Linked DNA regions of Homo sapiens. The protein of the gene in region 1 interacts with the protein of each later gene in a pairwise test. Each region holds a gene or a part of one and is shown on either strand. Other genes may lie near its edges. The genes, in order: HMMR, SVIL, BACH1 and FAM83D.

Region 1 (7,027 bases):
TTCTTATTTGAACTGGACAAGTAGAAGGATAATAGGTAGGACCAAGTGAGCATTATCAGAATCAAAGTAGAGGCAATAACAAGCCAAGGTGTTTTAGCCTAGCTAAAGAAGCTCAGACTAGAAAAGACCTCCAGGATCAAGCTGAAGAATCTGGGGTTTAGACTCTTGAAACTAAGGTTTCAGAACAGGAGGATAATAATATGATACTGACTTTTAAGTTGATGAGATGCATTCTAAGCTGGAAAGCCAGCGAAAGGGTTCAGAATGAGGTGATAAAGGTGAGCATTAGGGAGGAGGTATTTGCAAGAAAAAATAAAATGTCAAAAGACACTTTGGTAAAAAATGTTCCTTTCACATATTTAAGGATTGGCAGTTAAAATTAAATACAACATTATAAAATACCCATGTCAAATATAATAACAGCAACATCAATAACAACAAGACGAATGAAATAATCTTCAACAGGTTTCTCAGATGTTTACTTCCATGATTCTTGACACTCCATAGGAGCTCGGTAACAGTTTGTATTGCCTAGAAGAATTATTGAAAAGAAGGATTAGTAATCTAGATTAAAACGAATTTATCCATCATTATAAACTAAAAACAGGCCTTGTATCTTCTTTAAGGCAGATGAAGCAATATATTCTGTAAGATAATTTTTAGATTTATCATTTCAACCAACTTTAATTTATCGTGAAAGACAAACATTCACAGTCAAGAAATAAGAAATTTACTTCTCTAAAACTACAAATCAGAAAATGATTAAGGACCTAAGAGACATTTAGGTTAAAATGCTAAGGGTATTATAGAGGGAGTAATTTGGGGTGTGTGGACAGGGACAAAATAGTCATGCAAAGCTTCAAGGAAGATTTGAGATTTGCCTTGAAGAACAGGCAGAATCCAGGTATACAGAAAAGAAAGCGTAGAAGGAGGAAGAAAACAGTCATTGTACACAACAATCTCAGTAAGAACTGCTTTTATCAGAAGGTGTCAACAAATTTTCACAGTTCATAAAATGGATGACTTGCTAAATGCTATAAAAGCAAATCCAAAGGAAGAGGACACTTTTATACATTTATTCATGTCTTACCTTCTTTTAATGGGGTCTTCAGGGCAAAATTTTCTTTACTTTCATGATGAAAAGCCTTTGAAGGATCAAAGTGTTTGATACCTAGAACTTTATTCAATTCCTCTTGAAGTTTTGTCTCACTTTGTTTTTTTTTAGCAAGCTGACAGCGGAGTTTTGATACTTCCTAGGTAAAAAGAAATAATAGGTAATAAACAATTATTAAAGAGTATGTCAGTGAAATGTGTTACCAATGTTGCGGGCAAATTCCAAAGTTGTTTATGTATTATCACACTCAACAGCAAAAATCACTACTAGACACAGGCTTTAAGACTGAATTACAAAATGACATGAAACAGCTGTGACAAAGGAGATACAGTCTTTTAAATCTCCTTGCCCCTCCTCAGCTACAAAGCTATTTTTCTGATAAAAGTTCAACTCAAAAGTAATTGCTGAGATGGACTTCTGGCATGACAGCATGAAAGTTCTGCTGACCTGCTCCCTAGTGAAACTAAAAGTTATAAAATATTAACCAGTTAAAGCCTCTGAAAATTGACCTAAGGGAAAAATAGCAAATGAAGAAACATCTATTCAAGAAAATCTGCAAAAATTTGGTGAAAAAGAGAGTCTGCAGTGTTTAAGCCAAAACTCCTTCCCCTCTTCCCACTCCCAGCTTAGCAAGGCAAAGTCCACGCCAGACGGCTACAGCCAAAAGCACAGGGCCCTCTTTTCCCCCAACTCCGAGTCAGAAGCTTCCCTCCCAGGAGGACCAGGACATCAGAGTTTCTCATTTTGTCCCCAGCTCCCTGTGGCTGCAGTTATATCCTGGACAAATGCAATTGTGAGGTGGGGGATCCCTTCCTCCAGTCAGCCCCATTCATGGAACAGGGGCTCACCTTGGGCACAGTGTGTTGAAAATGCTGGGCCCCGATGACTCTTTCTCTGGCTCATGAGGGGGATGGTTCTACACCAGGAGGTTACTCAAGAGGGCCTGAGGCTATTCCTCATCTCTTCCCCACAAGTCCACTGAAAACTCAGCTCCTAGGGCAGAGGATGTCACTCAGAGAGAAAACTGCCATTGTCCCCAATTTCAGCTCTAGTCCTGGCTCAGGGATATTGTCGGGGGAGGGGGAAAGGAGGGCGGAAAAGACAAGTAGGCCATAAAACAGGGAGCTCCTCATTTCTTTTCAAAGGAACTGACTTCACCTGCAACAGAGCTTGGAGAAGCTGAAGCCTAAGGGTGCTCTAAAGCAGGGGTCCCCAACCTCCGGGCTACAGACCAATACCCATCCAAGGCCTGTTAGGAACCCGGCTGCAGAGCAGGAGGTAAGTGGTGAGCCAGGAAGCATAAGCATTACCCCCTGAGCTCCCCCTCCTGGCAGATCAGCTGCGGCATTAGATTCTCACAGCAGTGTGAACCCTATTGTGAAATGCACATGTGAGGGATCTAGGCTGCATGCTCCTTATGAGAATCTAATGCCTCATGATCTGAGGTGGAACACTTTAATCCTGAAACCATCCACATAAACCCATCACAAGCTGGGTGATCCGGTCTGTGGAAAAACTGCCTTCCACAAAACTGGTCCCTGGTGCCAAAAAGGTTGGGGAACCATTAAAGAACAGTGGTGGTTATAGTGAGAGAGAAATGGGAGGAGATTTAAGATACAGGCTGAACAGTAGGCTAGTTAGTTTGCAGGAGAAAACTAGGGAATATGACAGCTGGGACGAGCCCTTCTGTAGTCAGAATAAATATCCAGCACTGCTCTCGTATGCAATCCCTACAAAGGAGCCAGAATTTGATTGGATTAGTTTATAGAGCAATTTATGCCCTAAGGCACTGTTGCAAATAATCAAGCAAGGAGCCAGCATCTACTGGAGTTTACAGTCACTATGTTCACGGAAAGAGAGGAAGGCAGCCCTACCAAAGCAAGTGTCATCCCAGGGTAATTGTGGGCACACCTAAAACTGTACCTCCCTGAACAGCAACATCAGAGGCACAATACTGTTGGGGTCTGGGGAGGTAGTGGGATATGTTTCCCTAAAATAATTGAGCCACTCATTAAGCAAACAAGCAAATAAAAAGCCCCCAAAAGGAGGGGGAGCTGTACCCAGAAATGCTACAATATATGATCTAAAAATTTACTTTCCAATGAAAAATTACAAGGCATGCCAATAAACAGAAAAGTATAACCTATACATTTGGACACAAGGAGAAAAAATGTCTGAGAGTAATCGGATGTTGGATTTTTCAGCCATTAAACAAGGGCTGAAAAACCACCTATTGAGTACTATCCTTACTGCCTGGCTGACGGGACCTGTCATACCCTAAACCTCAGTATCATGCAATGCACCCATGTAACAAATCTGCATATGTACCCCCACATCTAAAATAAAAGATGAAATTATAAAAAAGAAAAGTTCTTGGCCAGGTGCAGTGGCTCAAGCCTATAATCCCAGCATTTTGAGGCCAAAGCTGGTAGATTCCTTGAGCCCAGGAGCTCCAGACCAGCCTGGGCAACATGGCAAAACTCTGTCTCTACAAAAAGTAGAAAAATTAGCCGGATGTGGTGGCGCACGCCTGTAGTCCCAGCTACTTGGGAGGCTGAGGTGGGAGGATCACCTGAGCCCAGGGAGGTTGAGGCTGCAGTGAGCCGTGATTGCATCACTGCACTCTAGCCTGGTGACAGAGTGAGATCCTGTCTCTAAAAAAACCCAAAAACCAAACAAAAAAATAAAGTTCTTTCTCCACTAAAAATTTAAAAAAAGAAAGAAACTTAAAAAAAAAAGACTCAAATTACTAGAATCAGAAATAAAGAGAAGCCATTACTACTGACCTTACAGAAATAAAAAAAAGATTATAAAGGAATACTATGAACAATTATATACCAACAAATTAGGCACATTTATAGAAAGACATAAACTACTCAAGAAGAAAACCGAATCAAGAAGAAAGAGATAATCTGAATAAGCCTATATCAAGTAAAGATATTGAATTAGTAACCAAAAAATATTCACAAGAAAAACCAAGGTCCAGATGGCTTCACCAATAAATTCTACCACACATTCAATGAAGAATTAATACCAATTATTCAAAAACCATTCCACATAGAAAAGAGGGAACATTTCTCACTCATTTTGTGATGTCACCATTACCCTGATACCAAAATGAGACAGACATTAAAAAAACAAAAACAAAGCAAAGAAAACCTACAGACCAGTATATCTTAGGAATATGGCTGAAAAAAACCCCTCAGCAACATATAAAAATAATTATATGCCATAACCAAGTGAGATTTATCTCAGAAGGTTAGATTAATATCTAAAAATCAATTAATAAAATACATCATATCAACAGAATAAAAAAATTACATGATAATCTCAATAGAAATAGAAGAAGCACTTGATAGAATTCATTACCCTTTCATATAAAAATGCTCAACAAACTAGGAAACAGAAGGGAACTTCCTCAACTTGATAAAGAGCATCTATGACAAATCGACATCTTTGTTTTTTTTAGATTGTTTCGCTGTTGTCTCCCAGGCTCAATGGCTCCATCTCGGTTCACTGCAACCTCTGTCTTCTGGGTTCAAGCCATTCTCCTACCCAAGTAGCTGGGATTACAGGCGCCCGCCGCCACACCTAGCTAACTTTTGTATTTTTAGTAGAGACGAGGTTTCACCATGTTGGCCAGGCTGGTCTCAAACTCCTGACCTCAGGTGATCCACCTGCCTTGGCCTCCCAGAGTGCTGGGATTATAGGCGTAAGCCACCTCGGCTGGCCAACAAATCAACATCTAATAATGTCACGCTATATACATCATACAGGTAACATCATATATCATGGAGAAAGACTGAATGCTTTCCCCCTAGATCAGGAACAAAGCAAGGCTGTCCATCCATTTTCATTACTTCTAAATTCAACACTGTATTATACTACAGGTTTTAGCCAGAGATATTAGACAAGAAAAAGAAATAAAAGGCATCCAGATTGGAAAATAAGTAACACTATCTCTATTTGCAAAAGACATGATCTATAAGAACATCCTAAGGAATCCACTAAAAAACTATTAGAACTAAAATGAGTTTAGCAAGGGTGCAGGATACAAGATAAATATATTAAAATCAATTGTATTTCTATACACTGGCAATCAACAATCCAAAAATGAAATTAACAATTTCATTTACAAAACATCAAAAAGAATAAAATAGTAATAAATTTAACAAGAGAAGTGGAAAACTTATACTCTGAAAACTATAAAACATTGTTGAAAGAAATTAAATGAGATCTAAATAATTGGAAAAATATCCCATATTCATGTATTAGAAGACTTAACCTAGTGAAGATAATAATATGTCCCAAACTGATCTACAGATTCAATGCAATTCCCATCAGAATCCCAGCTGGTTTCTTTGTAGAAAAACTGATTCCAAAATTAATATAGAATTGCAAGAGGTCCAGAATAGACAAAACCATATTGAAAAATACAAAGAGGACTCACGCTTCCTGATTTCAAAACTTACTACAAAACAACAGTAATCAAGACAGTGTGGTGGCACAAGGATAGATGTATAGATCAATGGAAGACAGTTGAGAGTCTAGAAATAAATCCATACATGTACAGTCTAAATGATTTTTTAATTGGATGCTAACTCCATTAACTGGAGGCAAGAATATTCTCTTTAAAAAATAGTGTGGGGACTATTGCATGTCCACATGCTAAAGAATGAAGCTGGACCCTTACCTCACACCACATACAAAAATTAACTCAAAATCAATCAATAATCTAAATGTAAGAGCTAAAACTATAAATCTCTTAGAAGAAAACACAGGGGTAAATCTTCCTGACCTTGAATTTGGCAGAGGAGATAGATACCAAGGAACGAACAAACAAAAAAATAGACACACTGGACGTCATAAAAGTTTTTTGGGTCAAAGGACATCATCAAGAAAGTGAAAAGACAATGCACAGAATGGGAGAAGATATTCGCAAATAATACATAAGAGACTTGTGTCCAGAATTGATGAAGAATTCTCACAATAATAAAAAGACTAATAATCCAATTTAAAAATGAGCAGAGTATAAACAGACATTTCTTTCATGAAGATATACAAATGGCCAGTAAGCACATGAAAAGATGACCAACATCATTACCAATTAAGAAAATGCAAGTTAAGTTAATGAGATACCACTTCATACCCACTACAATGGCTAGGATAAAGAAGTCAGATAATAACAAATGTTGGTAAGAATGTGGAGAAATTGGAACCCTCGTACACCGCCTGTAGAATATAGATTGGTATGAGCCACTTTTGAATACAGCCTGACCTTTCTATGGCCATACCACCCTGAACGCACCCGATCTCATCTGAATGTAGTCTGATACTTCCTGAAATGATTAAATGTAGAGTTATCAAATGATCTGGCAATTTCCCTCCTATTATTTCCCAGGGAAATAATATGTCCCAGGAAAAAACAAATGTCCATACAAAAACTTGTACATGAATGTTTATGGTAGCATTATTCATAATAGCCAAAAATGTGCAAACAAGTGTTTATCAACTGACAAACGAATAAATAAAATGTGGTATACCCACATAATGAATTATTAGGCTATAAAAAAAATAAAGTACTCTCCATGCTACAACACAGGTGAATCTTGAAAATATTATGCTAATTGACTGAAAGAAGCCAGTAACAAAAGGCCACATATTATTTGAATCCATGAATATGCCAGGTCCACAATAGGGAAATCAACAGAGACAGAAAGTAGATTAGTGGTTTCTTAGGGCTGAAGGGTGGGGTGGGGTGAGGAGATAGGAGAGTGTTAGGAAAAGGATAACAAGGTTTCATTTTGAGGTGATGAAAATGTCCTAAAATTGACTATGGTGATGGTTGCACAAATCTGTGAGTATACTAAAAAACACTGAATTGTCCACTTTCAATGGGTGGATTGTATGGGT
Region 2 (7,369 bases), on another chromosome or scaffold:
GCACACCTGTAGTCCCAGCTACTCCGGAGGCTGAGGCAGGAGAATCACTTGAACTCGGGAGGAGGAAATTGCAGTGAGCCAAGATCGCGCCACTGCACTCCAGCCTGGTGACAGAGTGAGATTCTGTCTCAAGAAAAAGAAAAACAAAAAAGAAAGGGGAAGAGTTCTAGAGAACAGATTTCAAAAACTTGTTTTCTATTATATTTATAGCAGTATTCACATTGGAAGACCAGTGCAGTGACACACTTTCGTTATCCCAGCTACTCAGGTGGCTGAGGCAGGAGGATCACATAAGCCCAAGAGTTCAAGACCAGCCTGAGCCAAATAGTGAGAACCTGTCTCTAAAAATGAAATATAATCAAAAATTGAGATGACCCGATCTCCTCCCTTTCCAAAAAGTTGTTTTCTTGCTATTTCTCCAGAGTTGGTCAGGTTTTAAAAATTAATAATCTGGGGCAGTAGATGAAATTTCTGAAAATTATGTGCAGGTTTCCTTTTTTATTTTTGGATGGGCCCTAGGTATTAGAGGTGCTCTTTTTAAGTATCTACACAGCCTGCTAAATAAACACATTCAATTGGAAAGCAATGCTTTCCATTTCTTATTCTGTATCAAATATTTTACTTTCGGATTAACTTTCATTCTTATAGGGAAAAATAAATATTTCCAGTTTGAAATTCGTAAGATGGCATTGATAATAAGTAAATCTCTATAGATTTATGTGAAGTACAGTTACAGTAAGTCACCCATTTACAAATGGATTATATTTGAAAGTTTCATTTGAAGTAGGTTTGTTTTTTGGGGTTGGGATGCTTTTTCCTTGGAAAAAATACTTAATTAAACTTTTTTTTTTTTTGAGACAGAGTTTCACCCTTGTCACCCAGGCTGGAGTGCAATGGCATGATCTCAGCTCACTGCAACCTCCGCCTCCCGGGTTCAAGCAATTCTCCTGCCTCAGCCTCCCGAGAAGCTGGGATTACAGGCACATGCCAGCCACCATGCCTGGCTAATTTTTGTATTTTTAGTAGAGACAGGGTTTCACCACGTTGGCTAGGATGTTCTCAATCTCCTGACCTCAGGTAATCCATCCGCCACAGCCTCCCAAAGTTCTGGGATTACAGGTGTGAGCCACCCCGCCCTGCTTAAACTTTTAATTTTGAGATAATTATAGATTCAGATGTAGTTGTAAGAAATAGTACAAAGTGATCATGAGGGCTTTTTACCCAGTTTCTCCAGTGATAACATCTTGCAAAGCTATACAATAGTATCACAACCAGGATATTGACACTGATGTGGTCAATCCAATAGAAGAGTTCCAGAACAGGGGTCTCTCATGTGGCCCTGTTAAACCACCTCATCCCCATCCCTAACCTCTAACAACTCCCATCTCTTCTCCATTTCTATAATGTTGTCATCTGGGAAATGCTATGTAAGTGTACTCGTATAGTATCTAACATTTTGGGATTGGCTTTCTGTCACTCAGCATAATTTAATTCCCTGGATTCTTATCCAGGTCGTGGAACGTACTAATAATTTGTTCCTTTTTATTGTTGAGTAGTATTCCATGGTATGGATGTACCACAATGAGGATTGGGTAGAAGCTCATTGCTTTTGCCTAGGGGTGTCTAATTGCTCTAGCACTGTTTGTTGAATGGCACAGAAATCAGTTTGGCATATTCATGTGGGCCTGTCTCTGGGTTCTCCAGTCTGTTCCACTGATCTATGTTATGTGTCTCTCTTTTTGCCAATGCTGTGTTGTCTTGATTACTGTAGTTATCCAGTAGGCCTTAATATGGGATAGATTCATTGCTCTAACTTTTTTCTTCTTTTGAGACGGAGTCTCACTCTGTGGCCCAGGCTGGAGTGCAGTGGCATGATCTTGGCTCACTGCAACCTCTGCCTCCCAGGATTGGGTTCAAGCGATGCTCCTGCCTTAGCCTCCCTAGTAACTGGGATTACAGGTGTGCACCACCACGCCTGGCTAATTTTTCTGTATTTTTGATAGAGACAGTGTTTCACCATGTTCATTAGGCTGGTCTCGAACTCCTGACCTCAGGTGATCCACCCGCCTCGGCCTACCAAAGTGCTGGGATTACAGGCATGAGCCACCACGCCCAGACTAACTTTTTTCTTCTTTTTCAAGATGGTTTTTAGCTATTCTAGGGCCTGTACCTTTACTATAAATTTTAGAATATCTGCCAAAAATCACTGTGAGGCCAGGCAGGGTGGCTCACACCTGTAATCCTAGCACTTAAGAAGGCCGAAGTGGGAGGACAGCTGGAGCCCAGGAGTTCAAGACAAGCCTGGCCAACCTAATGAGACTCCATCTCTACAAAAACTAAGAAATTAAAAAATTAGCCCAGTGTGGTGGTGCACATCTGTAGCCCCAGATATTCAGGAGGCTGAGGCAGGAGGACTGCCTCCTGGGGAGGTTGAGGCTGCAGTGAGCCATGATTGCACACCTCTACTCCAGCCTGGACAACAGAGCAAGACCATGTCTCAAAAAAACAAAACAAAACAAAACAAAACAAAAAAACCTTGCAAGATTTTGATAGGAATTTTGTTAATCTGTAGATCAGTTTGGGGACAATTGACATCTTTTGTGTGTTGATTTTTCTTCCAATTCATGATTATCATCATTGGAAAGAAGTGAGTATGATGAGTCTTCTAAGCCAGGCAGATAGCAAAAAAATTAGGAAAGTAAATGGATTGCACAGGAAGAATTAACTGGGATTTAAATAATCAAAGACAGAAAGGATATATAAAAGAAGTGACGAAGGAGATTTACCCTATTAGACTCCAGTGTATTAATCTAGGACAGTTTGGTTGCTATGGGGAAGCAGTGTGCAAAAACTTAAGAGGCACACAAAAGACTGATGTTTATTTTGTGGGAGTGAATCTTTTTTTAGGAAGGAAATAGCACTATTGTGGTAACAGTGATTCATTTTCTCCTCCTATCTTCTCTTTACAGAGAAGACCCAAATAGTGAACTGTTTCATGTAAGTTTTTATTTATTTTTGCCCTACTTTTCTCTAGGGAGGGGCTTACCACAGCTTATAAAAATACGTAAAACAAGATCAAATAAACTTTAAAATGAGGAAAAAGCCAATATGGTCCAAGGGAAAAGAAGATCAGGGTCAGGACTGAGATTAGGATGCAAAAGCCATGCTATGAAATTTTGTTTGTTTGTTATCTTGAGATGGGTAAAAAAAAAAAAAAACAGTTGACTGGGACAAATACCCCTAGCACAAAACAGTCATGAAGCCAATGTTTAATTATTATACCTGTCATCTTTTCACCTGGCCTCAGGACTGTCCTCTTAGGGAGAGGCATTGTTCTGTAGGGTTAATTAGTAACAGGAATTTAGATCCTGCTTTGAGAGGCCTCCTGTGCTGGCCGAAGCAGCTGGTGGTCTGAGAACCCTGACACCCAGAGGCATACCACTGGGAGGCCCCGCGCAGCACACAGCTTTTGCTGTACTCCAGCCCAAGTCTTATGGGGTTTGTGGTTTATACTGAAGTTGGTGCAGACAATTAAGACTCTCTGTTCTTGGTACCGACAGGGACAGAGACCTACAATTGTAAGTATTTTGTAAACAGGGTTGTGATATTTGTTTGAGTGTATTCAACATGTCAGTGGCCTTTTAATGTTTAAAAAAATGCATATGGCCATTTAAGAAGTGGTTGTGCTTCATAGTTAATATTTTTTTCATTAGGTTAGGTTCATCTGGTTTTTCAGTGAGGTGAGCTACCTGAGAGCCATAGGAAGATAGATCTTGCCAGTTCAGAGGACTGACTTTGGCTTTAAGAGAAAATATTTGTGTCATTTTCGAGAAAGTACTTCCAGCACAATGCTTTCTTCTGATGATTCATTTTCTACAGTTATTGGAAGTGGGAAGAAATCCACAGAGGTTACAGAATTTGTAAACTTGTAGAGACATGTGCCATTATATCATGCTGTTTCATAGATGTGTATGTCTGTTAGTTACTTTTCGGGCATTCATTGTATATATGTCTGTTACTTACTTTTGGGGTGTTCAGTGTCTGAGCTTTGTCAACGATTGTGTGCTCTTTTTTTAGCCTAAAAAAACTAAGTTAGAGAAATGTTTGCTCATCCAAATCTGTATTGTTGTAGCTTATTCAGTAGACTGCTGTTGTATTTTTAATTTCTCTATACAACAAGCTGAAAGACAGTGTGGACAACCTAATTGCATTTGAAGTAGCTGCTGGCCAGGCCTGCTGCAACAGCTGATGGGCTCCTCTGAATTTCCAGGGCTATTTCTGGTAGATGAGCTGGTATCAAGGCTCTCGAGTTCAGGCCATAAAAGGCCCGTCCCATGTGAAGTTGCTTCACTGCTCTGACTGCGTCCTCCCCAGGCTGAAGTGTCCTCAGGTTTCATGTGGATTTGCCCAGTAATGGATGGCTCCACCGAGGCCAGGTTGGGGAAGTTCAGCCTCGAGGACACTAGGGGACGAAAAACTTCAAAAAGAAGACTCTTTTTATTAATATTTTGGCGTTCTTTTTGGAGAGGAACTTTTGGGATGTAGCCTTTACCTGTTTCCTGAATTTGACATCCAAAAAGCCTTTTGGAAAACACCATTCTAAATTTATCCTGTTCTGAATCATCATCGCTTCTGATAGATGCAGTTGCTTGCTGACATCGTGATCTTTGATTTTGTACAACGCTATTTGGGCTAACTTTTGGGATTTTACTTTGTGCTTAGAATTTGAAAGTAGTATTCATTGGAAAGAGACTCCAAGAAAATACTCGAAGACATCAAAAGCTGGATTCGAGGGTATAACGTGTTTTGTTTTGTTTTTTAAATTAGAAAAATAAGGAATTGCAGTGTGATTTTCTTTCCCCCTTTAACTTAGAGGAACGAGGATTATACAGAAATTTGAAGTAAGTGAAAAATCTTCCTATAAATCTAAATGCAGTAGGTTTTTTTTTGTTGTTTTTGTTTTTGCTTTTTTTTAAGTGCCATCTGTCTGAGCATGTTTCCTGAGGATTTGTTGACTTCAGTCATTGGAAAATTCCTGCCAGCGTTTGCCAGTTACTGCAGCCATTCCTGTAGATACCCTTGGGCATATTTCTTGGGTTGAGAAGGATTGGACTTTTTTTTTTTTTTAAAGGATTTACTTTATGGTAGAGAAAGGTTTAATACTAAAAATTTGATTAATATAACTTAGTACATTCTGTCTAAATGTTAGCACTTAAAGTCTTGGAATTAAAGTATATTCACAATGCAACGTACTTTAATAATCGTAGCACAAGTATGGGGGTGGAGTTCAGAAGGGCAAGTTTTATTTCACTGCCATTATAATTCATGTAAAAATAGAAAATCACCAGTGATCCTTTTGCATAATCTTTGTTCTGAGGGTTCTTTGCCTTGGTACTCTCATTCTTCAGGGCTTGATTTCTAGAACTTGCGATGTTCCAGAATTTATGAGAAAAACCTCACTGTAGGTTCTAGAGTTTGAACTGCATTTTATTTTTAAATTCTCCAAGAAAAAATACTGCATCAGCCTTTTAAAGCCCTGGAGATTGCTATGGTCTCTTTGTAATTTAGCTCAGTGATTTGTTTCTGCTGAAAAACAGCAGTGAACTCTAGAACATAGAAGGCTTATTTGACGTGTTGCTTCTTTGAAAAAAAAAAAAGATTATTTCTTTATACCACATCAGATGGACAAGTACGGGCAGTCATTATTTTTACCAGGTAGGAAAACAGAGTATTTATAGAGAAGAACTTCATCGGTGAATACTGCGAGGGTTCTTCACCGGAGATAGTGTGGCAACCCTAGGGGGCGTTTGAAAATGCATGGGGGTGTTTCAGGTTTTCTCAATGACTCACTGGCATTTGGGAGGATGTGGTTAAGAATTGTAAATGCCCAATTTACATGGTGTAGGGGACAGTCCCATACAGCATTACCCTGGCCAAACTGCTGGTGGTATCCCCTGTTGAGTAAAACTGCAGGATATAAATTGTACCCTCTGTCTCCAAAGAAGAGCAGCCCAGTGCCAGGCAGATGTGTGCTGTCTCTTCTCACCAAAACCAGTGATGTCTTTTTTTTTTTTTTTTTTTTTTGAGATGGAGTCTCGTGCTGTCACCCAGGCTGGAGTGCAGTGGCACGATCTCGGCTCACTGCAACCTCCACCTCCCAGGTTCAAGTGACTCTCCTTGCCTCAACCTCCCAAGTAACTGGGATTACAGGCACCTGGCACCATATCCAGCTAATTTTTTTTTGTATTTTTAGTAGAGACGGGGTTTCACTATGTTGGCCAGGCTGATCTTGAACTCCTGACCTCGTGATCCGCCCACCTTGGGCTCCCAAAGTGCTGGGATTATAGGCGTGAGCCCCTGCACCCGGCACCCGGTGATGTCTTGAGGATCCAGGGCATCAAGTGTGCACTAGTGTCAGAGAATTTGTCTTACAATGGAAACTTTGGAGTCTATACTCTGTGTGTGTGTGTGTGTGTGTGTTAAAGATAATTTATTTGGTCACCTTGATCACTGGATGAGGCTGATGTTATACAAGCTATTGTAGTACATTAGGTGCCTTCCTGCCTACCTTTATTTAGTACTATTGGTGCATTTAATTTTGCCACATGCATAGTCTTCCAAGTGAAATTTGGTTAATGCGCTCAGCTTGCAGTGGACATCAGTCAGCCATTCAACAAACAGTTCTTTATCTTTGCTTCTACTTTGGAGACAGACTGTTTTGTGATAAACAGACTTCTGGAAGACTTTGGAGTTCAATTCAGAGTGAACATCTTTGGCAACACCTGGGGTTATATAGTATTCTTTTTTTCTTTTTTCTTTTTTTTTTTTTTGAGATGGAGTCTTGCTCTGTTGCCCAGGCTGGAGTGCAATGACACAATCTCAGCTCACTGCAACCTCCACCTCTTGGGCTGAAGTGATTCTCCTGCCTCAGCCTCCCTACTAGCTGGGATTACAGGCATATGCCACTGCGCCCAGCTAATTTTTGTATTTTTAGTAGAGACAGGGTTTCATCATGTTGCCCAGGTTGGTCTTGAACTCCTGACCTCAGGTGATCTACCAGCGCTCGGCCTCCCAAAGTTCTGGGATTACAGGCATGAGCCACCACACCCGGCGAGTTATTTAATATTCTACAGTTGAGGAATTGCATCCAAAGGAAAGGGCCCTTGGGATTTTTATAAGGATGTCTGGTGAGCTCCAGCATGCAGGGCTCTCGGGCTACATGGAGCGTTATGGAGAGTAAGCTGCTAGGAGCCTTGTGATTGTTAGGGTACAAAGGCAGCCTTGGAATCATCTCCTGAATCTGCAGCTGCCTGGGATTTTAGGACACTCATTGCAATTTTATGTTAAAGCGCTGATCTCAGGGTGCCTT
Region 3 (7,027 bases), on another chromosome or scaffold:
ATGGTTCATATTTTCAAATTATTGAATGAGACTTTACAAGTAAAGCAAAGTTTGATTCGTGGATTTAGGAGGAAAGGTATGTGCATACATGCATGTGTGTATGCATTCATTCATTCTTTCTAATGTGTAAATCATAAGTTTTCAAATATTTGAAGTGTTTCATTATAGTGACAATGTCAAAATACCTTATAACTCACTATCCTAAAGACCTTTTTAGATTATTTTAACATATTTAAAAATTTTAATTGAAATTTTTATCGAGTGTATTAGGGTTCTCCAGAGGGACAGAACTAATAGGATATATGTATGTATGAAGGGGCGTTTGTTAAGGAGAATTGGCTCACATGTTCACAAGGTGAAGGCCCATTATAGGCCACCTGCAAGCTGAGGAGGAAGGAAGCTAGTAGTGGCCCAGTCCGAGTCCAAAGGCCTCAAAAGTAGGGAAGCCAACACTGTAGAGCCTTCAGTCTGTGGCCAAAGGCCCAAGAGCCCTCGGCAAACCGCTGGTGTAAGTCTGAGAGTCCAAAGGCCAAAGAACCTGGCGTCTGATGTCAAGGGCAGGAGGCATCCAGCAGGGGAGAAAGATGAAAGCTGGAAGACTCAGCAAGTCACCTATCCCACCTTTTTCCTCCTGTTTTGTTCCAGCCTCGCTGGCAGCTGAGTGGATGGTGCCCACCCATATTGAGGGTGGGTCTTCCTCTCCCAGTCCACTGACTCAAATGTTAGTCTTCTCTAGCAACGCCCTCACTGACACACCCAGAAACAAGACTTTACAGCCTTCAATCCAATCAAGTTGACATTTAATATTAACTGTCACACTGATGTTTTCATGTACAGATGTAAGAAACAATGCAGAGTTCCTTTTCACTTTGTCCAGTGTCCGCCATTGATAACATTTTGCAAAATTGTAGTATAGTATTACAACCAGGATATTGATACAATCTCCCATAGCGTTCAGATTGCCACAATTTTGCTTGTACTAGCATGTGTGTGTGCGGGTTAAGTTCTATATAATTTTATCCCCTGCGAAGGTTTGTGTATCCACCACCATAGTTAAGATAACAGCCGGGCCCAGTGGCTCATGCCTGTAATCCCAGCACTTTGGGAGGGCGAGGCAGGCAGATCACCTGAGGTCAGGAGTTCGAGACCAGCCTGGCCAACATGGTGAAACCACATCTCTACTAAAAATACAAAAATTAGCCAGGCGTGGTGGCGGGCACCTGTAATCCCAGCTACTCGGGAGACTGAGGCAGGAGAATCACTTGCAGTGAGCCAAGATCGTGCCGCTGCACTCTAGCCTGGGTGACAGAGAGAGACTCTGCCTCAAAAAAAAAAAAAAAAAAAAAGGAACTGAACTTGCCAACACAAAGATCCCTTGTGTTGTCCTTTTATAACCACAGACATCTCCTGCCTACACTCCATGCCCTCATCCCCTTGCCCCCTTCCTCCGTGCCTAATCCATGGCAACCACTAATCTTTCTTCCTTTTCTAAAGTTTTGTCATTCTAAAAATGTTATATAAATGGAATTATGCAGTATATTACCTCTTAGGATTGATGTTGTTTGACTTAGCTGAGATTATCCAGCTTGTGTGTATCAGCAATTTATTCCTTTTTATTGCTGAGTAATATTCTGTAGTATGGATGTACCTTGTGTGTGTGTGTGTGTGTGTGTGTGTGTGTGTGTGTGTGTGTGTAGCTTTTTACCTATTGAAGGAAATCAGGCTAATTCTGGTTTTTGGCTATCACAAATAAAATTGCTGTAAACATTTGTGTACTGGTTTTTGTGTGAACATAAATTTGCATTTCTCTGGGATAAAAGACCAGGAGTGCAGTTGCTGGGTTATATGGTAGTTGCATGTTTAGTTTTATAAGAAAGTTTTTTTCAAAGTGTCTGTACCATTTTACATTCCCACTAGCAATATGTGAGTGATTTAGTTTATCGGCATTCTCATTAGCATTTGATGGTATCACTGCTTTTTATTGGAGCCTTTAAAAAGCCTAAACATGGTTTAGCATGTTTATGTTTTTAAGAAGATCACAGCCGGGCGCGGTGGCTCACGCCTGTAATCCCAGCACTTTGGGAGGCCTAGGCGAGTGGATCACGAGGTCAGGAAATAGAGACCATCCTGGCTAACGTGGTGAAACCCCCGTCTCTACTAAAAATACAGAAAAATTAGCCGGGCATGGTGGCAGGCACCTGTAGTCCCAGCTGCTCGGGAGGCTGAGGCAGGAGAATGGCGTGAACCCGAGAGGCGGAGCTTGCAGTGAGCCGAGATCGCGCCACTGCACTCCAGCCTGGGCGACAGAGCGAGACTCCGTCTTAGAAAAAAAAAAATCACAAATATTAATATTATCTTGACCACTCTTATAAGAACTCAGTGGTTTCAAATTAATTTTGTGCTTTTAATCCAGGATGATGCCTTCTGTGTACTGGAGTTGGTTCCATTTGCCTCTCACTTTAAGAGGCAGGTTTAATGTAAATGTGCAAGTTTCTACTTAAAAGTTTTGTTACTTCGAGTCCATGAATTTTTGCTGAAACAGTACCGAGGCATGATTTTTATAACTTCTCTTAGATCACTTTTAAAAATCTGAATCTTTAAAACTTTTACTGTTAGGAATTTTTGACAGTAAAGTTAATAGTTACCAGTTAGTATGCATTTACCATGGATCAAGACTTTGTAACTGCTTTACAAATACTGTTTTATATCCTTTAAAATTCTGCTTTTGTAGCTTGTAGCAGTTGGAGTTGTTTGGAATACAGTGGCCATGTGGAGCTGGGCTAGCAGTAGACTCACTATGTGTGGCAGGTAGTGTTCATCCTGCTCTAATTCATAGATGATTTTTTTTTTCACTATCATGGGAAAATTGTGGTAATGTCTTACATCTTTAACTTATGTGAGTAAACCATAATTCATGTGCAATTAAGAGAGGACTCTATAAAATAGTGTGTGGTCCCTGTGAAAAGCATGCTTTTCCAGGATCTTTTTCTTTTACATTTCTTAGAAGAATATGTTTTCTTCAAATTAAAGTACATATTTTATAATTATCACAAATAAGTTACATATCTCTCTATTCCTCTTCTACTTATTTTGTTTTTATGTACTAGACAGCTTTCAAATGATGTGTTTGTTTTTATTTTGTGTATCAACAGGTGACAGTTAAAGGATTTGAACCTTTAATTCAGTTTGCCTACACTGCTAAACTGATTTTAAGTAAAGAGAATGTGGATGAAGTGTGCAAATGTGTGGAGTTTTTAAGTGTACATAATATTGAGGAATCCTGCTTTCAGTTTCTGAAATTTAAGTTTTTGGACTCCACTGCAGACCAGCAAGAATGCCCAAGAAAAAAATGCTTTTCATCACACTGTCAGAAAACAGACCTTAAACTTTCACTTTTGGACCAGAGGGATCTAGAAACTGATGAAGTGGAGGAATTTCTGGAAAATAAAAATGTTCAGACTCCTCAGTGTAAACTCCGCAGGTATCAAGGAAATGCAAAAGCCTCACCTCCTCTACAAGACAGTGCCAGTCAGACATATGAGTCCATGTGCTTAGAGAAGGATGCTGCTCTGGCCTTGCCTTCTTTATGCCCCAAATACAGAAAATTCCAAAAAGCATTTGGAACTGACAGAGTCCGTACTGGGGAATCTAGTGTCAAAGACATTCATGCTTCTGTTCAGCCAAATGAAAGGTCTGAAAATGAATGCCTGGGAGGAGTCCCGGAGTGTAGAGATTTGCAGGTGATGTTAAAATGTGACGAAAGTAAATTAGCAATGGAACCTGAAGAAACGAAGAAAGATCCTGCTTCTCAGTGCCCAACTGAAAAATCAGAAGTGACTCCTTTCCCCCACAATTCTTCCATAGACCCTCATGGACTTTATTCTTTGTCTCTTTTACACACATATGACCAATATGGTGACTTGAATTTTGCTGGTATGCAAAACACAACAGTGTTAACAGAAAAGCCTTTGTCAGGTACAGACGTCCAAGAAAAAACATTTGGTGAAAGTCAGGATTTACCTTTGAAATCCGACTTGGGCACCAGGGAAGATAGTAGTGTTGCATCTAGTGATAGGAGTAGTGTGGAGCGAGAAGTGGCAGAACACCTAGCAAAAGGCTTCTGGAGTGACATTTGCAGCACGGACACTCCTTGCCAAATGCAGTTATCACCTGCTGTGGCCAAAGATGGCTCAGAACAGATCTCACAGAAACGGTCTGAGTGTCCGTGGTTAGGTATCAGGATTAGTGAGAGCCCAGAACCAGGTCAAAGGACTTTCACAACATTAAGTTCTGTCAACTGCCCTTTTATAAGTACTCTGAGTACTGAAGGCTGTTCAAGCAATTTGGAAATTGGAAACGATGATTATGTTTCAGAACCCCAGCAAGAACCTTGCCCATATGCTTGTGTCATTAGCTTGGGAGACGACTCTGAGACGGACACCGAAGGAGACAGTGAATCCTGTTCAGCCAGAGAACAAGAATGTGAGGTGAGCAGGAATATGTTCTTAATTCATTGTTTTAATAACCATTAATTGGGATTTACTGTGGATCAGCTCCCTTTGCATCATTAGGGATATAATCAGGTTCAGGGAGTGGGGAGGAAACTCATACAAAATTAATTGTAAGACTGTGTGATAGGGCTGGGCGCAGTGGCCCACAACTGTTAATTCCAGCACTTTGAGAAGCCGAGGTGTGGGTGGATCACCTGAAGTCAGAAGTTTGAGATCAGCCTGGCCAACATGGCGAATCTCCGTCTCTACAAAAATTAGCTGGGTGTGGTGGTGGGTGCCTGTAATCCCAGCTACTCGAGAGGCTGAGGCAGGAGAAGCGCTTGAATGTGGGAGGCGGAGGTTGCAGTGAGCCAGGTTTGCACCACTGCACTCCAGCCTAGGAGACAGAGCAAGACTGTCTCAAAAAATTTTTTAAAAACACTGTGTGATAAATACCAAAAGAGAGAGATGAAGTTTGAAGGACTTCTGTTCATTCGTTTCCAGTAGATATATTAACCATAAAGTAGGTTCACACATTGGCTGTGTTCACACATCGGCCATTTAATTGTTTAAATCAAATGCCATGCTGCAAGACAAAAAAGAATAATGATTCTATGCTCATTATTTGATAACTCCTGGAAAAATGCAGCATATATTCAGTCTTGCTCATTGCCAACAAGAACCTCTAGACCTGGGACATGTCCCTGAGCAGTGGTTTAACAGTGATTAGTTGTAGGAATGTGACTTCTAGTGGAGTAAAGTTTATTGGATCTAGTTTTTCATGGCCATTGATTTTTAAATTTTCCTTTGGCCATTTCAACTATTGATGAATGTCTTAATTTAGCATGAGTTACATGTAGCTGGTATGATATTAATCAAAGCAAGCTTGATTTGTATATTCTGTTTGTATTTGATAGATCCTTTCTGTAAAATATTACTTATAAGTCCAATAATGACAAGGGCCTGTTAGTTCCTTCCAAAAATATATTAATTAAAATATTTTTTCTTTTTTTTGTTTTTATATTTTATGATTTTTTTTGCCTTTCAATAGTTGGCTTTTCTCTTTATAATCACAATTTACATTCTTTTTAAAAATTATTTTTCTATTTTATCCATTGCATTTTTTCCCCTTTCTTGGGCTTTATTTGTTTTTTGTAAGAATACTTAACATGGGATCTACCCTTATAACAAAATTTTAAGTGTACGATACAGTATTGTTAAGTATAAGCACAATATTGTACAGCAGATCTCTATAACTTATTCTTTTATGACTGAAACTTAACCCATCCAATTGCAATTCCCCATTTTTTCCCTCTCCCTAGCCCCTGGCAACCACCATTCTACTCTCTGTTTCTGTGAGTTTGACTGTTCTGTCTACTTCGTATAAGTGAAATCATGTTGGATTTACTCTCCTCTGTGTCTGGCTTATTTCACTTAGCATGATGCCTCCCAAGTTCTCCATATTGTAGGCAAATGGCAGGATTTCCTTCTTTTTATCAGGCTGAATGGTATTCCTTTGTGTATATACACCACGTTTTCTTTATCCGTTCATCCATCCATGGACATTTAGGTTGTTTCCATATCATGGCTATTGTGAATAATGCGGTAACGAATATGGCGGGGAGTACAGACTGGGCACAGTGGCTCATGCCTGTAATCCCAACACCTTGGGAGGCTGAGGTGGGTAGATTGCCTGAGCCCAGGAGTTTGAGATCAGCTTGGGCAACATGGTAAAACCCCATCTCTACAAAAAATACAAAAATTAGCCAGGCATGGTGGCATGTGCCAGTAGTCCCAGCTACTTAGGAAGCTGAGGTGAGAGGATCGCTTGAGCCTAGGAGGTTGAGGCTGCAGTAAGCCATGATTGTGCCACCGTACTCCTGCATGACAGAGACCCTGTCTCCAAAAAAATATGTGTAGATCAGTGCAGATATCCTTTTGAGATTGTATAGAAATTGGGATAGAGGCCTATGTTTTCTTTAATGTAAAATAAGTTCTCTGAAAAACTTAGATGTATACCTTCATCTTCCTAGGTTTGACTATAATTATAAAATACAGCAATAATTAGTAATATTTATTTCATATTCTAGGTAAAACTGCCATTCAATGCACAACGGATAATTTCACTGTCTCGAAATGATTTTCAGTCCTTGTTGAAAATGCACAAGCTTACTCCAGAACAGCTGGATTGTATCCATGATATTCGAAGAAGAAGTAAAAACAGAATTGCTGCACAGCGCTGTCGCAAGAGAAAACTTGACTGTATACAGAATCTTGAATCAGAAATTGAGAAGCTGGTAAGTGTAAAAGTTTCTTGTTACTATTTAAATTCCACCACTTTCTTTTTTGTCAAGGAAATAGTTTTTAAATTTCTAGGTCAGATATAATGCTCAATTACTTATTTTAATATGTATCAATTACCATTTTATCATTTTTACCATGATATGCTGTGATATGTAAGTGCTTTTTAAAAAGAAGGTTTTCAAATTAAGAATGACTTTACTGTCTACCTAATCATTAGTGGTTGTGAATAGATT
Region 4 (7,027 bases), on another chromosome or scaffold:
TCAGAGCTGGGTGGGGCTTGCCAGACCTAGGGTATGGGGGCTGGCCCACAAGTGTTTAAGGACCTGGAATGTTTGGGGGCAGCCAAATTCCCCACAGCGGGTTAGTGGTAGGAGAGGAAGCTGGGGTAAGGGATGCTGAAATGAGTTGGGTTTGAGACAGTGCTGAATTTGAGGTCCCAAAGACAATCTCTTTTGTTTAAAAAAAAAAAAAAAAGCCAGGCCATGGTATCATGTGCCTGTAGTCCCAGCTACTCAGGAGGCTGAGGCAGGAGGATCATTTGAGCCCAGGAGTTTGAGGCTGTAGTACACTATGACTACGCTGTGAATGGCTACTGCACTCCAGCCTGGGCAACACGGGGAGACCCTGTCTCTTTAAAAAAAAAAAAAAAAAAAGTAATGCTTTCTGTTTGCCAGGCACTGTTCTAGGTGATCCCAAGGAAGGTGCGATTATCATCTTCATTTTACAGCTGATAGAACTGAGGCATAGAGAAGTTAAGTGGCCCCGAAGTCATGCAGCTAGAGAATGAAGGAGCCTGTACTCAAATTGAGGCACAGAATGTCTGAACCACTGTTAACCACCACACTCCCTGTGGAGGGTTCAGGAGCCTGTGCTCAGGTGGGGAGAGGTGACAGCAGATCTGGTGGCTAGCTAAGAGCTACTACTATTTATGGGCATGCATTGTGGACAAGGGAGTGGCTGTGTCACCTTGACCACATCCTTTGAAATCTAGTACCTGTGACAGCGAGGACCATGAAGGTGTAGGTCTCAGGCTGCTTTCAGGATGAAATGAGAAGCTGTTCTGCATCCGTGTTCTGATAGCAAAGGTACCTAATGGTGATATGATTGAGCACTTTGAATGGGTCAGTTTCTGTGCTAAACCCTTGACCTGAATTACCTCATTTAACCCTCCCAACACTGGGAGGAGGCTACAATTAAGAAAAGACCAGGCACAGAGAAGTTAAGTAACTTGCCTGAGATCACACAGTTAGCATGGGACAGAGCTGGGCTCAAGCCCAAGTCTGTCTAGTTCCAGCTCTGAAGCTCAAGTGTTTTTTTTTTGTTGTTTGTTATTATTTTTTTTAAGACAGAGTCTTGCTCTGTCACCCACGCTGGAGTGCAGTGGCATGATCTTAGCTCACTGCAACCTCCACCTCCTGGATTCAAGTGACTCTCCTGACTCAGCCTCCCGAGTAGCTGGGATTACAGGAGCACACCACCATGCCCAGCTAATTTTTTCTTTTTTTTTTTGGAGACAGAGTTGCTCTTTTGGCCCAGGCTGGAGTGCAGTGGCACAGTCTCAGCTCTCAGTAACCTCTGCCTCCCAGGTTCAAGCGATTCTCCTACCTCAGCCTCCCAAGTAGCTGGGATTACAGGCACCCTCCACTAATTTTTGTATTTTTAGTAGAGATGGGGTTTCGCCATGTTGGCCAGGCTGGTCTTGATCTCCTGACCTCGCGATCTGCCTGCCTCAGCCTCCCAAAATGCTGGGATTACAGGCGTGAGCCACTGCGCCCGGCCAATTTTTGTGTTTTTAGTAGAGATGGGTTTCGCCATGTTGCCCAGGCTGGTGTTGAACTCCTGGGCTCAAGTGATTCACCTGCCTTGGCCTCCCAAAGTGCTGGGATTACAGGCGTGAGCCGCTGTGCCCGGCCACTGAAGCCCACACTCCTAATCCCTGCTGCATACAGCCTCCCTGCCATGAGGAAGGATTGGAGCTTTGGTAGTTTTCAACAGGCTGAAGGTTTGTAACAGTTGAAGATTGGGACTTTTTAATTTCCATGTTGCGTATTCTATAAACAGGAAAATGACAATGACTAGACCTGTCCTTTTCAGGAAGAAAACGAGGTGGTCAGTTTTTAGAGTAGGAGGCATTAAGGCTGGCAGAGAACCTCCTCAACCCATCAAGTGGGGAAGGTGGTTCATGATGCCAGGAGAACATAGGTCTCTGAGTTTAGGTTTTGTAAACTAGAGTGTGTTTTCCTCTCCCTGGGAAAGATAGAGCCAGATAGATGTTTCTGGTACCTGGAGCAGAGGGATCTGTGAGAATCTTTTGGTGGGTGAATGAAGGAACTTTGAATGCCACATGAAGGGTCCCACTTAACCCCAGAGGTTGGGGCCAGGCTGCAGTAGAGCACGGTCGAACCTCAGTGTTCGCTCCATGCAGCTTTATCTGCCTTCACTGAGGTGGTCTGAGGACCACCCTGCATCTTCAGGAATGTCTCTGGAAGGAGCCAGGATACGAGGCTCCTTGACCAGAGTATAGGCACAGGAAGCCAGGGTTACTTGGTAAATGGTAGGGCCTAATCCTGGCTTTGCAGCCTGAAGCGCTGGTTCTGGGATAGGTTTTATCCAGCAGCTCTCTGACCACACAGAATCACTCAGTGTGTCTGATACATAAAAGATGCTCAGTAAATACTGTAGGGGCCTATTATGTGCACCTTTGCTCATTCAGCTACATGCTTTGAGGAGAAATAAAGGGCAGGGGGAAGGGAGCGGTAGATAGGAAGAAAAGTAGTTCAGGTGATTCTGTCTGCCTTTCCACTCAGCAAGTATTTGTCCCTGGGTGGCTGTGCCTGGGGTTTGTGAATCTGCCAGCCCCTTCCTTGACTCTTGTTTCTATATACCTTTCAAAGTGTGGGCATTCTGCCACACTGAATGAGGTACAGTGTTTAAAAACAAATGGTTTGGCCATGCGCGGTGGCTCATGCCTGTAATCCCAGTGTTTTGGGAGGTCAAGGCTGGAGGATTCCTTGAGGCCAGGAGTTTGAGACCAGCCTGGGCAACATAGCGAGATCCCATCTCTACAAAAAGTTAAAAAATTAGCCGGGTGTGGTGGCATGTGCCTGTAGTTCCAGCTACTCAGCAGGCTGAGGCAGGAGGATTACTTGAGCCCAGGAGTTGGAGGCTGTAGTAAGCTATGATCATGCCAGTGCACTCCAGCTTGGGTGACAGGGCAAGACCCTGTTTCTAAAAAATAAATAAAAACACAATTACGTATAGCATGGCTTGAATACAAGCTGGCTGCTTACCAGGTGCTCAGGCGAGCTTCACCAAAATTGGAGGAAATACTGTTTTGAACCTTTTGAGAACCCATATGTTTGTTTCCTAAGCAAGTTTTTGGATAATCTTGAATTATACAGGATATTTTCCCTACATACTTGCTGTAGATCCACCCCTCCACCACTGTATCTGTTGATGACGCATTCAGCTTTTTGCCTCTGTTGCTGTGTGAACTGGGATTTGGCTGGGCTGTGGCCGCCTGCCTGGAAGGGCTACATAGCCTCATTTTGGCAATGTGCTTATGAATTGGCTGTCCGGCTATTCCTGGTTTGTTGAATGAGAGTTCAGAGGCAAAGCTGGTACCACCACGAGGTTCCAATTCCTCAGAGTCACGTTTCTTACCAGTGCCTATTCTCTTTTGTTCCAAAGAGGCCACTTTTGCTATGACCTCACCCTCGGGCATCCTCTTGATAACCTGAGCGTTAGTAGTGGGGATCATTGCGTTCCCAGAGAGCCCTGCCAGGAGGAGTAGCAGCTTAGGAATCTGTTGGGGGCCCCTGGCATTTACTTGGATGTATCTGAATGAAGGCTTTCCTGTTCTTGCACAACTTTCCTCTGCATTACAGTAGAGCCTGTGTGGTGTGATCAGTTTCTGTTCCAAATGCTCATGTCAGCCCCAAGCAGGGCTTCTCACCCTCAGCACTGTTGACCTTTTGGGTTGGATAATTCTTTGTCCTGAGGGGCTGTCTTGTACATTGTAGGACGTTGAGTAGCATCCATGGCCCCCATTCACTCGATGCCAATAGCATCCCTCACACCAGGTAGTCATGATATTCAGTGTCTCCAGAGTGGGAAATAGTGAGTTACTGATGAATGGGCACAGAGTTTCTGTTTGGGGCTATGAAAAAGTTTTAGAAACAGATGGTAGTGATGGTTGTGAATGTAATTATTGCCACTGAATTGTACACTTAAAAATTATTAAGATGGCAAACTTATCTATTTTACCACAATAAAAAAATGTCTCCAGACATTGCTAAATGCCCTGTGGGGGCAAAATCGCCCTCCAGTTGTGAACCACTGGCCTAGAAGTTCTCACTAGTGCATCATTATGGGACATTACCCACTGGACTGAAGTGTTGCTACTATTTATCCCTTCCTTTTGATTTCATGTGTCAGGTTAAGGATTTTAGAATTTAGCCATTTCTCTTTAAAAATATTGTGGTAAAAAATACGTAGCAAAATTTACCATTTTAACCATTTGTAAGTGTACAGTTCAGTGGCATTAAATACATTCACACTGTTGTGCAGCTGTCACTAGCCGAATCTCCAGAGCTGTTTCAGCTTCCCAAAGTGAACCTCTGTACCCATTAAACACTAGCTCTTCATACCCTCCTTTCCTGGCCCCGGCAACCACCATTCTACTTTCTGTCTGCCATTTCTTTCTTTCTTTTTTTTTTTTTGAGAGTCTCGCTCTGTCGCCAGGCTGGAGTGCAGTGGCACCATCTCAGCTCACTGCAACTTCTGCCTCCCGGGTTCAAGCGATTCCCCTGCCTCAGCCTCCCAAGTAGCTGGGACTACAGGTGCCCGCTACCACGCCCGGCTAATTTTTTTGTATTTTAGTAGAAACAGGGTTTCACCATGTCGGCCAGCATGGTCTCAAGCTCCTGACGTCGTGATCTGCCCTCCTCGGCCTCCCAAAGTGCTGAGATTACAGGCGTGAGCTACCATGCCTGGCCTCTGTCTGCCATTTCTTTATTCTTTTCCCTTAGCGTCTAGCAGACAGTAATGAAGCTGCAGAATTCTTCTCTGACTTCTTTATGGATAGAAGGTATGTTACTTCAGGAAAAAAGCAAGCAAAACCCAAAAATGTAGTGGATATATTGGCTTAAAAAAATCTTGAACCCGGTCTCTACTAAAAATACAAAATTAGCTGGTTGTGGTGGTACATGCCTGTAATCCTGGCTACTTGGGAGGCCGAGGCAGGAGAATAGCTTGAACCTGGGAGGTGGAGGTTGTGATGAGCCAAGATCGTGCCATTGCACTCCGGCCTGGGCAACAAGAGTGAAACTCCGTCTCAAAAAAAAAAAAAAAAAAAAATTCTTGATGCAAATGATATAACCTCTGGAAGGGAATTTGGCAATATCTAGCAAAATTTCAGTTATATTTACCCATTGATCTACCACTTCCACTTCTCTGTATCTTGATATATTGGCAAAAATATGAATAGTTGTAGACAATAGGCCATGCGTTGCAACACTAATTATAATAGCAAAACACAGGAAAGAGTTCAGGTGTTCGTCAGTAGAGGATGAGTTCATCATTGTGAATGAACCGATTCGTCTCTGCAGTGGAACATCCTGTAGCTCTAAGAAGGAATGAGGACTAGCTCTGATATGCGGTATCTAGAATGGTACTGACCAGTGTAGTAGCCATATGAGGCTATTAAAATTTATATGGATTAAAATTAAATAAAGATTCAGTTCTGTCATCTTGGAAGGTTCTATTGGGCCACGCTAGTCTAGAACAATGTGTAGTATTCCATGCTACCTTTTACCTATAGGGGGATATAAGCACATATACATAGTTATATACATAATACACATGTTTATATAAAACAAATATGTTTATATACACCTGTGTATACTTGTTTATATTGAAAAAATGGAAGAATATACAAAAAACTATTGGAAATATTATCTCAATGGGGAGGAGGGACAAGGATGGAAACTAAGTATCTTTGAAAGTACCTTGTTTTGTAAATTGGATTTTGGAACTAGGCAAATGTTTTACATACTTATAAAATAAAAACAATTCAAAATGATAAGCCCTCCTCCCCCTACCCCCTAACTTCTTGGTGCTTTTCCCTCCCCTTTGAAAAGCCCACCTGCTTGTGTACTTCATGCTGGAATAGTACAGAGTACTGAATAGTGGTCAGTCCCTCCAGAGATCAGTGAAAACTTTGCTCCTGCCACCCTCTGGTGGCCCTGCCAGCACTTTCATCTAATACTTAAATTGTTTTATTTGGTTGCTTGTTTGTTTGTTTGAGACAAGTTCTCATTCTGTTGCCCAGGCTAGAGTGCAGTGGTGCAATCATGACTCACTGCAGCCTCGACCTCCCAGGCTCAAGTAATCCTCCTGCCTCAGACTCCCGAGTAACTGGGACTTAAAGGCACATGCCACCACGCCCAGATAATTAAAAAAATTTTTTCTGGAGACAGGATGTCAACTGTGTTGCCCAGAGTGGTCTCAAACTCCTGGCCTCAAGTGATCCTCCCACCTTAGCCTCCTAAAGTATTGGGATTACAGATGTGAGCCACCGTGCCGGGCCTAAATTGTTAATTTGATAATAGCCTCTGAAACAGAGGGAGAACAGTGCACACAAGCAAGTTTAGGTTTCGCTGTGGGAATTTACATTCTTTTTTGTTTTTAAACCCCAAAGATGTCAAGATAGTTACTTAAAGGTTTTTGACAAAATCCCAAGGAGATTATTTCTGTTCTATTAAAACATGTAATACATGGAGAGAAAATATATCTTTTGCTTTTTTAGCAAGAGGGTCCTGAGAGAGTTAGGAGAGGAAGTGAAGGGTCAATGGAGGCCATGTGGTCAGCTGGGAGAATGCAGCAGCCAGGATGTTATTGACCACAGCACAGGCTGACATTGAGTGGGTGCAGATCTTTGGTGGAATTCCAAGCATGTTGCACACCTGACCTCACTTTATGACTCTGGGAGGGAAGGGAGGGAAACTGAGGTGCAGTGAGAAGGGGTGATCGGTACGAACTTCCTCCTTCACACAGAGGAAGAAGAGCTAGAATGAGAACTGGAATGACTGGCCCTGAGGGGCCTGTTGGGGCTGCACATGTGCCTGGTCAGAGCCTAGACCTGCCCATTGAGTGTGTATGAATCACTGACTTCGCAGAGCTGGAAGGGTTCCTTGTTTCAAGGACACCGAGACTCAGATGGAATGGCTTGTCCAGGGATAGTGACGGAATCGGGACTAAGAATATGAGTAGCTGCCATTTAAGGGC

The links.
Region 2: the proteins of HMMR (region 1) and SVIL interact in a two-hybrid assay, tested with the Homo sapiens proteins (one study listed by BioGRID).
Region 3: the proteins of HMMR (region 1) and BACH1 interact in a two-hybrid assay, tested with the Homo sapiens proteins (one study listed by BioGRID).
Region 4: the proteins of HMMR (region 1) and FAM83D interact in binary tests that used the Homo sapiens proteins (3 or more experiments, as listed by UniProt).

Annotation. Positions count from the first base shown.
Region 1 is NC_000005.10:163,484,616-163,491,642, reverse strand, and holds part of HMMR (hyaluronan mediated motility receptor), read right to left. Parts: intron 2,393-7,027; exon of another isoform or gene 2,260-2,392; intron 1,254-2,259; coding exon 1,091-1,253; intron 532-1,090; coding exon 479-531; 3' UTR 1-478. UniProt on the Homo sapiens protein: Receptor for hyaluronic acid (HA). Involved in cell motility. When hyaluronan binds to HMMR, the phosphorylation of a number of proteins, including PTK2/FAK1 occurs.
Region 2 is NC_000010.11:29,631,952-29,639,320, reverse strand, and holds the start of SVIL (supervillin), read left to right. Parts: upstream 1-4,349; 5' UTR 4,350-4,901; intron 4,902-7,369.
Region 3 is NC_000021.9:29,322,907-29,329,933, forward strand, and holds part of BACH1 (transcription regulator protein BACH1), read left to right. Parts: intron 1-3,152; coding exon 3,153-4,487; intron 4,488-6,580; coding exon 6,581-6,787; intron 6,788-7,027. UniProt on the Homo sapiens protein: Transcriptional regulator that acts as a repressor or activator, depending on the context. Binds to NF-E2 DNA binding sites. Plays important roles in coordinating transcription activation and repression by MAFK.
Region 4 is NC_000020.11:38,929,417-38,936,443, forward strand, and holds part of FAM83D (protein FAM83D), read left to right. Parts: intron 1-7,027.